3 linked regions of the Homo sapiens genome follow. The protein of the gene in region 2 purifies or fractionates together with the protein of the main gene of each other region. This does not show direct contact. Each region holds a gene or a part of one and is shown on either strand. Other genes may lie near its edges.

What was found.
Region 1: the proteins of KDF1 (region 2) and CIP2A purify together in Homo sapiens (affinity purification with mass spectrometry, with the first as the bait; one large-scale study listed by BioGRID). This does not show direct contact.
Region 3: the proteins of KDF1 (region 2) and SEC24B purify together in Homo sapiens (affinity purification with mass spectrometry, with the first as the bait; one large-scale study listed by BioGRID). This does not show direct contact.

What each region holds. Positions count from the first base shown.
Region 1 is NC_000003.12:108,558,403-108,562,057, forward strand, and holds part of CIP2A (protein CIP2A), read right to left. Parts: intron 2,440-3,655; coding exon 2,247-2,439; intron 1,627-2,246; coding exon 1,552-1,626; intron 1,466-1,551; coding exon 1,355-1,465; intron 1-1,354.
Region 2 is NC_000001.11:26,950,336-26,953,990, forward strand, and holds part of KDF1 (keratinocyte differentiation factor 1), read right to left. Parts: intron 3,619-3,655; exon of another isoform or gene 3,511-3,618; intron 2,078-3,510; 5' UTR 2,046-2,077; coding exon 1,007-2,045; intron 422-1,006; coding exon 347-421; intron 1-346. UniProt on the Homo sapiens protein: Plays a role in the regulation of the epidermis formation during early development. Required both as an inhibitor of basal cell proliferation and a promoter of differentiation of basal progenitor cell progeny.
Region 3 is NC_000004.12:109,534,722-109,538,167, reverse strand, and holds part of SEC24B (protein transport protein Sec24B), read right to left. Parts: intron 1-3,446. UniProt on the Homo sapiens protein: Component of the coat protein complex II (COPII) which promotes the formation of transport vesicles from the endoplasmic reticulum (ER).

The sequences.
Region 1 (3,655 bases), on a different chromosome or scaffold from region 2:
ATTCCATTTGTATCTGCTGGGAATTTCATATTACTGCAGTAAGTTCACTCTTAAGGTATACATTATATATGTACATAATACAATGCCAAATTTACTGAGCACCTATTATGTGCCAAGTGCTATGCTAGGGCCTGGAGCTATAGAAGCAGTCTTTGATACCATGAGTGAGGGAAAAAAGAATTTCCACGTGGTTTGAAAAATGTTATTAAGAGATAAGCGTAGGTTTGATACACAGAGGAAGGATCGTCAAACACGTGTGGGAAGGAGACCAGAGTAGGCTTCTGGGTAATGAGGATATTTTAACTGAAATCTGAAGGATTATGAGTTAGGCAGAAGAGAGGAAATGGTGTTCCAGACATGGAAAGTCAAGTGCCACGACAAGGAAATACGAGAATATGTCAAGTTTCAGAAAAAGCAAAGTGGCCTAACATGGCTGACTGCAAAGAATGCGCAGAAATGAAAGATGTGGATTGAGGCCTATATAGTTAGAATCCTTATATGCCAAACTAAAGAATTTTAATGATATTTGAAAGCAATAGCAGCTACTGTGAAAGATACTCAGCACAAGAGGGACAGGATCATTTTACTGCCTTAGAGATCCTTGGGGGAGCGGCTAGGTGAAGGGGGTAGAACCAAGGAAAGATGACTGGCTGTAGAGTATCTGAGAAGAGGGTAGAAGACTACAGGTAGGAAGACTAATTGCTCTGCTATGATTCATACAAAAAATGAAAAGGATCCAGCCTATAACAAATAGTGGTAGAAGCAGAGATAGGGCAGAAAAGAGTAATATTTAGAAGGTAGAATCAACTGGACTTGGTGAATAATTATAGGAGGTAAAAACTGTGATTTCCAGGGTTCTTATTTGTAGAACACTAAAAACAGAAGAGGGAATACATAAGAATAATTTTAAAAAGGGAAGGGTGATTAGTTCATTATTGGTTATGCTGAGTTTGTGGTATTTGCTGTATATTTAAATGGAGCAACATAGGCACATAGTGCTCAGGAAAATGATCTGTGCTTGACATATAAAATTAGGAACATTACTATTTTGGTAACCATTGAAACCACAGAACACATAACTAAAGGAAAAAGGTTTAGAATATAAGTCCCAGAGTCCCCAACACTTAAAGGTACAAAATAAATAACATAGGAAAATAATACAAGGTAGCAAAAAAAAATCAGGTAACGATGTAACCAAAATTAAAGAGGACAGAATTTCAGGAAGAAGGAAGGAGGCATGTCAAATGCTAAGGAGAATTTACTTCAATTAGAGTAACAAATACATAACTAATATTTTGCATGTTTTACTTATTAATTTTTCTACAAATCAGATGTGTCTTTATATTCTACACACCTCTGTTTCAGCTTGAGTTCTTTGACAGCGATGCTGAGCAATCAGTCTATCAGCCTGTGCAAGGGCTAGAGCTTTTGTTTCCAAAAGATCTTGTAGCCTGCTTTCTTTGGACTACAAGAAAACATATCATTAATTTTCATTTTAGGAATACATCTATTAAAGCTTATTACACATTGTTAAAATAAGCTTATACTCACAGCTAATGTGGATAGTTTCATTTCATATACATCCATTATGTCAGATATTCTCACATCACAAATCTGATCCTTTACCTACATTTTAAGAGTAAAAAAACTTAAAATTTTAATAAAATATTTTGACACAATGACAAAATAAATGCCTACTTCAAAACTAAATCATTAAAACTTAATGATGAGTAACAAAATAAAAACAAATGCTACATCAGGTAAGTCACAAATATTTCTTTTTTTTTTTTGAGATGGGTCTCACTGTCACCCAGGTTGGAGTGAAGTGGTATGATCTTGGCTCACTGCAACCTCTGCCTCCTGGGTTCAAGTGATTCTCCTGCCTCAGCCTTCAGAGTAGCTGAGACAACAGGCATGAGCCAACACGTCCAGCTAATTTTTTGTATTTTTAATAGAGACGGGGTTTCGCCATATTGCCCAAGCTGGTCTTGAACTCCTCAGCTCTGGCAATCTACCCTCCTTGGCCTCCCAAAATGCTGGGATTACAGGCGTAAGCCACCGCACCCGGCAAAATGTTGAAATTTTGACTGATTTTTCTTATTTCCAAATTTTCCAGAATATTGTTATTTCTTATATTAAGGTTTCAATAGTGAAATCTGTACCTGACAGTGTTTAGATACACGTTATAATTGGGACTGACATATAGCTAATATGTACCAGGTTATAATTGCTATTTTTTCACTCACCACCATTCCAGACTGAAGTTTCTCTATTAATTCTTCAATATTCAATCCAGGAACACCATCTTTCAAATGAGGAGTTAAACACTTTATTGATGTTGGAAAACTGTGATTTGATGATTGCCAGGGCATTTTTCTGGGTATATGTTCTGTTTCCTGTTGTCTATAGGCATTGTTTGCTGCTATACTTTCTCCAAGTCTGAATGGGAGTCAAAGAAAGGAAAAAAAAATTATACGAAAATAGAAGAAAAGGCAGACTTAGTGCAGAATTAGGGAATTTTTAAGAATGGGTCCTTTTTTTGAATAGAAGTCTTCAAATAATCTTGGAGACCATGATGAAATGAAGTCTTGGGAAATATTCTGAATTTTCCAGAGCACCCACTTTTCTGTTTCTAACCTTTTATAATGACAGCTTCACCTCTGGTTTGGAGGCATTGTAAGACTAGTTTATGAGTGTGGATTATCTGTAATAAGTACAAAGTTATTGGTACTGGTCAGAATAATGTTCTTATCATGGGTGATATCACCTGGCCTTTACGTCCTTAGTCCTTTTCCTTTCTCACTCAGTACATACTTTTCACCAACCTGACTTCCATTCTAACCCTTTAAAATCCTCTCTTTCTCCTACCTCAGGCCTTCATATGAGCTGTTCCTTTATCTGGAACACGCTTTCTACCACAAAACAAAATATTTTTTTCACTTATCTCTTAACTAAAGTGCAAACTGCAAGATGGCAGGCACTCAGCCTAATTTATTATAGGCTGGGCATGGTGGCTCACACCTGTAACCGCAGCACTTTGGGAGGATCACTTGAGTCCAAGAGTTCGAGACAAGCCTGGGCAACCTGGTGAGACCCCTCTATAAAAAAATAAATTAATTAAGCAGTTGTGGTGGCACAAGCCTGTGGTCCCCGCTACTCAGGGGGTTGAGTTGGGAATATCACTTGAGCCCCAGAGGTCGAAGCTGCAGTGAGTCATGATCACACCACTGCACCCCAGTCTGGGTGATAGAGTGAGACCCTGTCTCGAAAACAAACAAGTAAATACACACACACAAAAACCCTACCTACCAATGCATCCATAATATACATTCAGTTTATTAAACGCCCAAGATAATGTCAAATAAGGGCATTAAATAGTAAGCATAAAATGGACATCTGAGATAATGCCCAAAGAGAAAATTATTTACAACACAAATAAGACAGGGAATGCCAAGACACAGTCAAAATGGTGGGAAGGCCTCACACACAGAGGCAGAGGATAAGACTTCCATGTTCAGTGAGGCTGCAGATTCCCCTTTGAAGCTCTTAAGGTTTTGTTTCATGTCAGATTACCAGTTTATGCAAGCAGGCCATCACAAAATAGAGCAGCTTTACAGACCACTTTTAACTTGTAACTTGAAAAGCTTCCTGTGTA
Region 2 (3,655 bases):
AGGATAATGATTCCACTCCCAGGGGGTTGTTGTCAAGGGCAAGAAGACCGCAACAGAACCACACGGGTGTCTTTCCAGCACCATGCTGGATGGCTCCCCACCCACTACTTTCCTAGTCATCTGGGCTTGAAGGTTGGGGTCTGATCACTTTCAGCTTGCCTGTTCTGGGCACCTGCACCCACTTTAAGCCAGCTTGCTAGATGGAGACAGGTCTGTGGCTGCTTAGGTCCCCGTCCCTTTTTGATGTCATCCTCATCACCCCAAAAGAAAGCTGGGAGAGCAGCAGGTGAGGGGCCCCTAGGGTAGTCCCCCACCCTCCACACCCCTCATTAGGTCAAGACCACACCTGGAGCTCCATAAGGCCTCAGCTTCCGGGCGATGGCATCTGCAGTCGTCTCCTGGGAGATCTGCACTGTCAGCTCTAGGGAGGGAACGTGAGGCAAGCAGTGGTCATTAGCACGTTCTTTCAACCCTATTTCCTACTTCTGTTCCCAGCCCGATGAGGGAGGAGCCACTCACTCCTGGGCAGGGCTAGAAAAATAATGCTTAAAGACAGAGACATAGACAACGTGTGCATGCGCAGAGTGATGGATGAGTGGGAGTTTTGGTTAGCCCAGAACAGGTCAGAGGCCCAAATTCATGTGGGTCCCTAGGTCCTGTTCACCAGACCAGGCCTAGAAGCTACTCTGGCAGGAGACAGCAGAGGAGAGGAGCCTTTTGGGTAAACTTGTTGAATGCAGAGGGAACCTTGACCTTTCTGGGGACAGCAGCGATGGCCAGAGAGCTCTCCCAGGGTCTGCATGCTTCTCTCAGCCTTGCTCGGACCTCACCAGGAAGGGCCAGAGTGGGAGCTGGGGAGAGGGGATGCAAGAGTTGACAGAAAGGAGGAGGAAAGGCAGGGACTGGCTGAGGGGTAGACCCACAGTGACTAAAGACCCCATTCCAACCCTCCCCTGGCCAGAGCCTCCCCTACTCTGCCCCTCAGCCCCATGGGGCCCCCACCTACCATCCTGGCTGAGACCTGAGCCCACCATGGTCTCATGGCCACTGTCAGGGGCAGCAGCGGTTGGGGCAGCAGCCCGAGTTGAACGACCCTCCGAGGTCTGTGGGCGAGCACGGCTCTTTCGGGTACTAATGCGAATGATGCCGCGTACCAGGCGGCCCTCAGCATCCTGCTCATCCAGGTGGTAGTCCTGCGTGATGCTGCTGATAAGGTCCGAGATCTTACTGGTCTTCTCCAGGAACACAGTGTCTGATGTGCACTTGGCCAGCTCATCGATCTGGTGTACGCTGAACAGCTCTGTCAGCTTCTTGAAGATGAGCACATCAATTTCTCGGCTCGACATGGAGCCACTGCCCATCTCCGGCAGGTCCAGGTCCGACTCATGGAAAGAATAGTACTCCTCGGAGCCACGAGGACTACTGGCAAAGGTGCTGGGCAGGCTGTGTCGCATGGGTGGGGGATCGGCCAGTGGCTCCTTGCAGCAGGAGTCCGCATCAGGGGCTGGGGAGGTGGCCCTCGGGTAGGGATACACAGGGATGCCTTTGAGCTTAACATCGGGGTAGCTGAAGCTGCTGCCCATGGTTGACTTGAGCCGCTGGCCATCCCGCCGGCTGGGGGGTGCACGATCAGGGCTGGGGGGCACTCCATTGTGCTCCTTGGCCCAGTTGGCTTCAGCAGTCCCCTCAGTGGAGTCCTCAGTAGACAGGCAGGGGCTGCATCCCCGCACACAGGCTCCACAGCGCTGGAGGCAATCCCGGCAGCGGCGGAAGCAGAAGGCAGCCCGGCACCACTCCCACACCCAGGGTCGCCAGAGCAGGCAGCAGGTGGGGGACTCAAGGGCCGGCTCAGCAGAGCCAGAGATGAAGGTAATGCTCTCTGGCCCATGGTGGCCAGGGTCCTTGGGGTCTGGTCTACGGGTGCGGCGGCTTGGTGGGGGCTGAGGTGGTTTATCATATGTCTCCAGACATAGCTCTGTTGGCCGCTCCCACGGTCCCAAGCGTGGAGGCCCAGATGCTGGGCGGGGGTGTCCAGGGCGGGGCATGGCTCATTGCATGGTTTGTAGCAGCCAGGCACCTGCGTGGGGAGAGGCCAGGAAGGAGTCAGGATCAGAGGTGAGGGACAAACTCCTGGGCTGACTTGAGCAGCTTCACATTTCTAGTTTCTGAGAGGCCTGGGATGTGGATGGACCCAAGTATGCCCAAAAACCCTTGCCTGGGATGTGGATGGACCCAAGTATGCCCAAAAACCCTTATCTCTTGTGGCCCTCCCTCCACAAAGAGAAAGTCTCTGTGGTCTAACCCAGATTTCAAAATTCCCTGTGACTTAGACCTATTGGGATGGCTATGAAAGGTTGAACATTGGCCGGGCGTGGTGGCTCACGCCTGTAATCCCAGCACTTTGGGAGGCCGAGGCAGGCAGATCACCTGAGGTCAGGAGTTCGAGACCAACCTGACTAACATGGTGAAACTCCGTCTCTACTAAAAATACAAAAAAAATTAGCCAGGTATAGTGGTGGGTGCCTGTAATCCCAGCTACTTGGGAGGCTGAGGCAGGAGAATCGCTTGAACCCGGGTGGCAGAGGTTGCAGTGAGCCAAGATCACGCCATTGCACTCCAGCCTGGGCAACAGGGCGAGACTGTGTCTCAAAAAAAAAAAAGAAAGAAAAAGAAAAAAAGAAAGGTTGAACATCTTATCTGAAATGCTTGGGTCCAGAAATGTTTTGGATTCTGAATTGTGGATTGTATACATTATACTTACCTGTTAAGCATTCCTCATCCAAAAATCTGAAATGCTCCAATGAGCATTCCTTTAAGTATCATGCTGGTGCTCAACTTTCAGATTTTGGAGTGTTTTGGATTTTTGGATTAGGGATACTCAATCTCTCAATCTGTATTTAAAAATAATCTCCCTTCTCCCAGAAAATAATGAGTGTTGGCAATAATGTGGAAAAACTGGAACCCTTGTGCATTTCTGGTGGGAATGTAAAATGGTGCAGCTGCTATGGAAAACAGTACGGTGGTTCCTCCAAAAATTAAACATCGAATTACCACACGACCCAGCAATTCCACTTCTGGGTACATACCCAATCTAATTGAGAGCAGGGACTCAGATGTTTAGACAATGTTCACAGCAGCATTATTCACAATAGCCAAAAGGTGGAAACAATCCCAGTGTCTACCAATGGATGAATGACTAAACAAAATGTGGTATATACATACAATGGAATATTACTCAGCCTTAAAAAGGAAAGGAAATTCTTATACATGCTGCAACATGGATGAACCTTGAAGAACTTATGCTAAGTGAAATAAGCCAGACACAAAAGGACAAATAGCCCGGGTGCGGTGGCTCATGCCTGTGATCCCAGCAATTTGGGAGGCTGGGATGGGTGGATCACTTGAGCGCAGGAGTTCAAGACCAGCCTGGCCAACATGGTGAAAGCCCATCCCTACTGAAAATACAAAAATTAGCTGGGCGTGGTGGTGCACACCTGTAGTCCTAGTTACCTGGGGGACTGAGGTGGGAGGACCACTTGAGCCTTGGAGGTGGAGGTTGCAGTGAGCTGAGATCGTGCCATTGCACTCCAGCCTGGGCAACAAAGCCAGACCCTGTCTCAAAAAAAAAAAAAAAAAGACAAATATTGTAAGATTC
Region 3 (3,446 bases), on a different chromosome or scaffold from region 2:
CAAATGAAGGGGGATACCATTAAATTCCAAATTCCCTTAGCAATTATATATGATTATATCCTATTCTAAAAACAGCCATTCTGGGAGAATTTCATGTTTTCTTTAATTTAAAGGCAAAGAATTTTAAAGTACAGTGTGGATATGTAAATATATTTTAAAACTATACGCGAGACTATTTTAAAAGGACCTAAAAGTCTATTATTTTTTATATACATAAAAAGGTAAGATTTACTTTCCTTTTTCAAAGCCAACTGTAAATTAAATAGCAAATTAACAGTAAATTAAATAATTCAAAAATGTAGTATATAACAAAATTTAAATAGACAAGTTTGGAATAATTATGTTTGTAATTCCGGTCAATATTTTAAAAACCATTTCCATTTTGATGTGAATTTTTTCAGATGTTTTCTAAATTATTACTAAGTATACAAACACATTTTTGAAAATACAAATGGGGATCATATCATGCATATTATTCACTTCAGGCTGTATTCTTCTTCTTTTTTTCTTTTTAAGAGATGGGGTCTTGCTAGGTTGCCCAGACTGGAGTGCAATGGCTGTACACAAGTGCAGTCATAGTACACTACAGCTTTGAACTCCTGGGCTCAAGCTATCCTCCTGCCTCAGCCTCCTAGCCTCCCAAGTAGCTGGGACCACAGGTGCATGGCACAGTGCCCCAGACTGTATTCTTTTTAATAAATGCACAGCTATTATTTAATACTATAAGCATGTGTGTATATATGCCTACTTCTATGAATATATCTATGGGACACATTCTTTGCAGAATAATTTACCGTGTCATAAAGAACATGATTTTCACAGACATTGTCAAATGGCCCTCTAAAAAGGTTATATAAGTACTATATATTCCAGTCAATAATGCTCAACAGTGTCCACTGTCCTAAACTGTCTACATGATTGCCTATTATCAAATTTTAAAATTTTTGACAATCTGGTAAATGAAAGAAATGCTAAATTACTATTTTTTTTCCTAATTATGAGTGAGGTTAAATATTGTTTTATATGACCTCTACTTTATTCTTCTTTTATGAATTGCCTATTAAAATCCTTTACCCAGTTTTGTCTGGAGGAGGCAGAAAGTAAGGAAGGTCTTCTCAAAGATTTGTAAGAGAACTTTTTATAGAGAAGTTAGCCCTTTTCAGTCTTATGAGTTACAGATAATCTTAAGATTTTATTGTTTGTATTTTGGCTTTATTTATTTATTTATTGTTACCAAATATAAATGTTTTATATTTGTGCTTTCAGATTTATTGATCTTTTGAATCACCGACTTACAAAGGCGTTACCCATTCTAATATTATAAAAAAAAAAAAAATTTGGCCAGGCGCAGTGGCTCACGCCTGTAATCCCAGCACTTTGGGAGGCCGAGGTGGGGGGATCACAAAGTCAGGAGATCGAGACCATCCTAGCTAACACAGTGAAACTCCATCTCTACTAAAAATACAAACAATTAGCTGGGCGTGGTGGCAGGCGCCTGTAGTCCCAGCTACCCAGGAGACTGAGGCAGGAGAATGGCGCGAACCCGGGAGGCAGAGCTTGCAGTGAGCCAAGATTGCGCCACTGCACTCCAGCCTGGGTGACAGAGTGAGACTCCATCTCCAAAAAAACAAAACAAAACAAAAAATTCACAAATATTTCTTCTAGTGATCTGCATGGTTTCCTTTTTTACATTTAAATGTTTGATCCATTTGAAAGTTATTTTGATATAAGGAATAAGGTAAATATCCAGTCTTGTTTTTTCCTTAATGACTAATCAGTGGTCCCAAGATTATTTTTCTAATATTCCATTTCCCCACAGTAATTTGAAATGCAATCTTTACCACACTGTATTTTTCATTAATTAGATCTGTTTCTGAACTCTATTCTGTCCCACTGATCTGTTTACTGTGCCAGTATCATGGTACTTAAATAACTACAGCTTTAGAATAAGGTTTACTATTTTACTTAGAATTTATTTTTCATATATTTCCCCCTTTGCTGACATTATTCTCCCTTTTCATTTTCTTATTATCCTCATTTGTTGAGTTTTACCAATGAACTCTTGGATTATCTGTCATTTAAAAAAAAATCAAACAATGACAGATTGTAATAAGGATTACACTGAATTTATATTAATTTCAGGAAAAAGGACATATTTACATTACCTAACAATAAGCTAGGCCAGCCTTCCCTTTAAATTAATTAATTATACAAATCTGTTTTCAGAATCATATTTCCTTGGTATTGGTTAGCATACATTCAATAAAATCCTACTGAAAAATTTGTGTTTAGTATAAGCAAAGTAACTTTTTTTTTGAGACGGAGTCTTGCTCTGTCACCCAGGCTGGAACGCAGTGGCGTGATCTCGGCTCACTGCAAGCTCCGCCTCCCGGTTTCATACCATTCTCCTGCCTCAGCCTCCTTAAGAGCTGGGACTACAGGCGCCTGCCACCACGCCCAGCTAATTGTTTTTTTGTATTTTTAGTAGAGACAAGGTTTCACCATGTTAGCCAGGATGGTCTCGATCTCCTGACCTCTTGATCCACCCACCTCGGCCTCCCAAAGTGCTGGGATTACAGGCATGAGCCACCGCGCCCAGCCACTTTTTTTTTTAGACGGAGTCTTGCTCTGTCGTCCAGGTTGGAGTGCAGTGGCGCAATCTTGGCTCACTGCAAGCTCCACCTCCCAGGTTCAAGTGGTTCTCCTACTTCAGCCTCCCGAGTAGCTGGGACTACTGGCACCCGTCACCATGCCTGGCTAATTTTTTTTGTATTTTTTAATAGAAACGGGGTTTCACCATGTTGGCCAGGATGGTCTTGATCTCTTGACCTCGTGATACACCCACCTAGGCTTCCCAAAGTGCTGGGATTACAGGTGTGAGCCACAGCGTCCGGCCCAGCAAAATAATTTAAACCCAAAGTTAAAGTTGTTGGAAAACAGTTTGGCAGTTCCTCAAACAGTTAAACATAGAGTTATCATGTGACCCAGTAATTCTACTCCTAGGAATATGCCCAAGAGAACTGAAAACATATGTTCACACAAAAACTCGTACATAAGCATTCATAGTAGCACTATGCACAATAGTCCCAAAGCAAAAACAACTGAAATATCCATCAGTGGATGAATGGGTGATCAAAATGTGGTATGTCCATACAATGGACTATTTTTCAGTCATAAAAAAGAACAAACTGGCCAAGCACCGTGGCTCACACCTGTAATCCCAGCACTCTGGGAGGCCAAGGCAGGAGGACTGCTTAAGCCCAGTAGTTCGAGACCAGCCTGGGCTACACAGGGATACCCCATCTCTAGAAAAAAAATTTTTTTAATTAGCCAAGTGTGGTGGCATACTCCTGTGGTCCCAGCTACTCAGGAGGCTGAGGTAAGAGAACTTTTTATAGAGAAGTTAGCCCGTTTTCAGTCTTTTGAGTTACAGATAATCGTAAGAG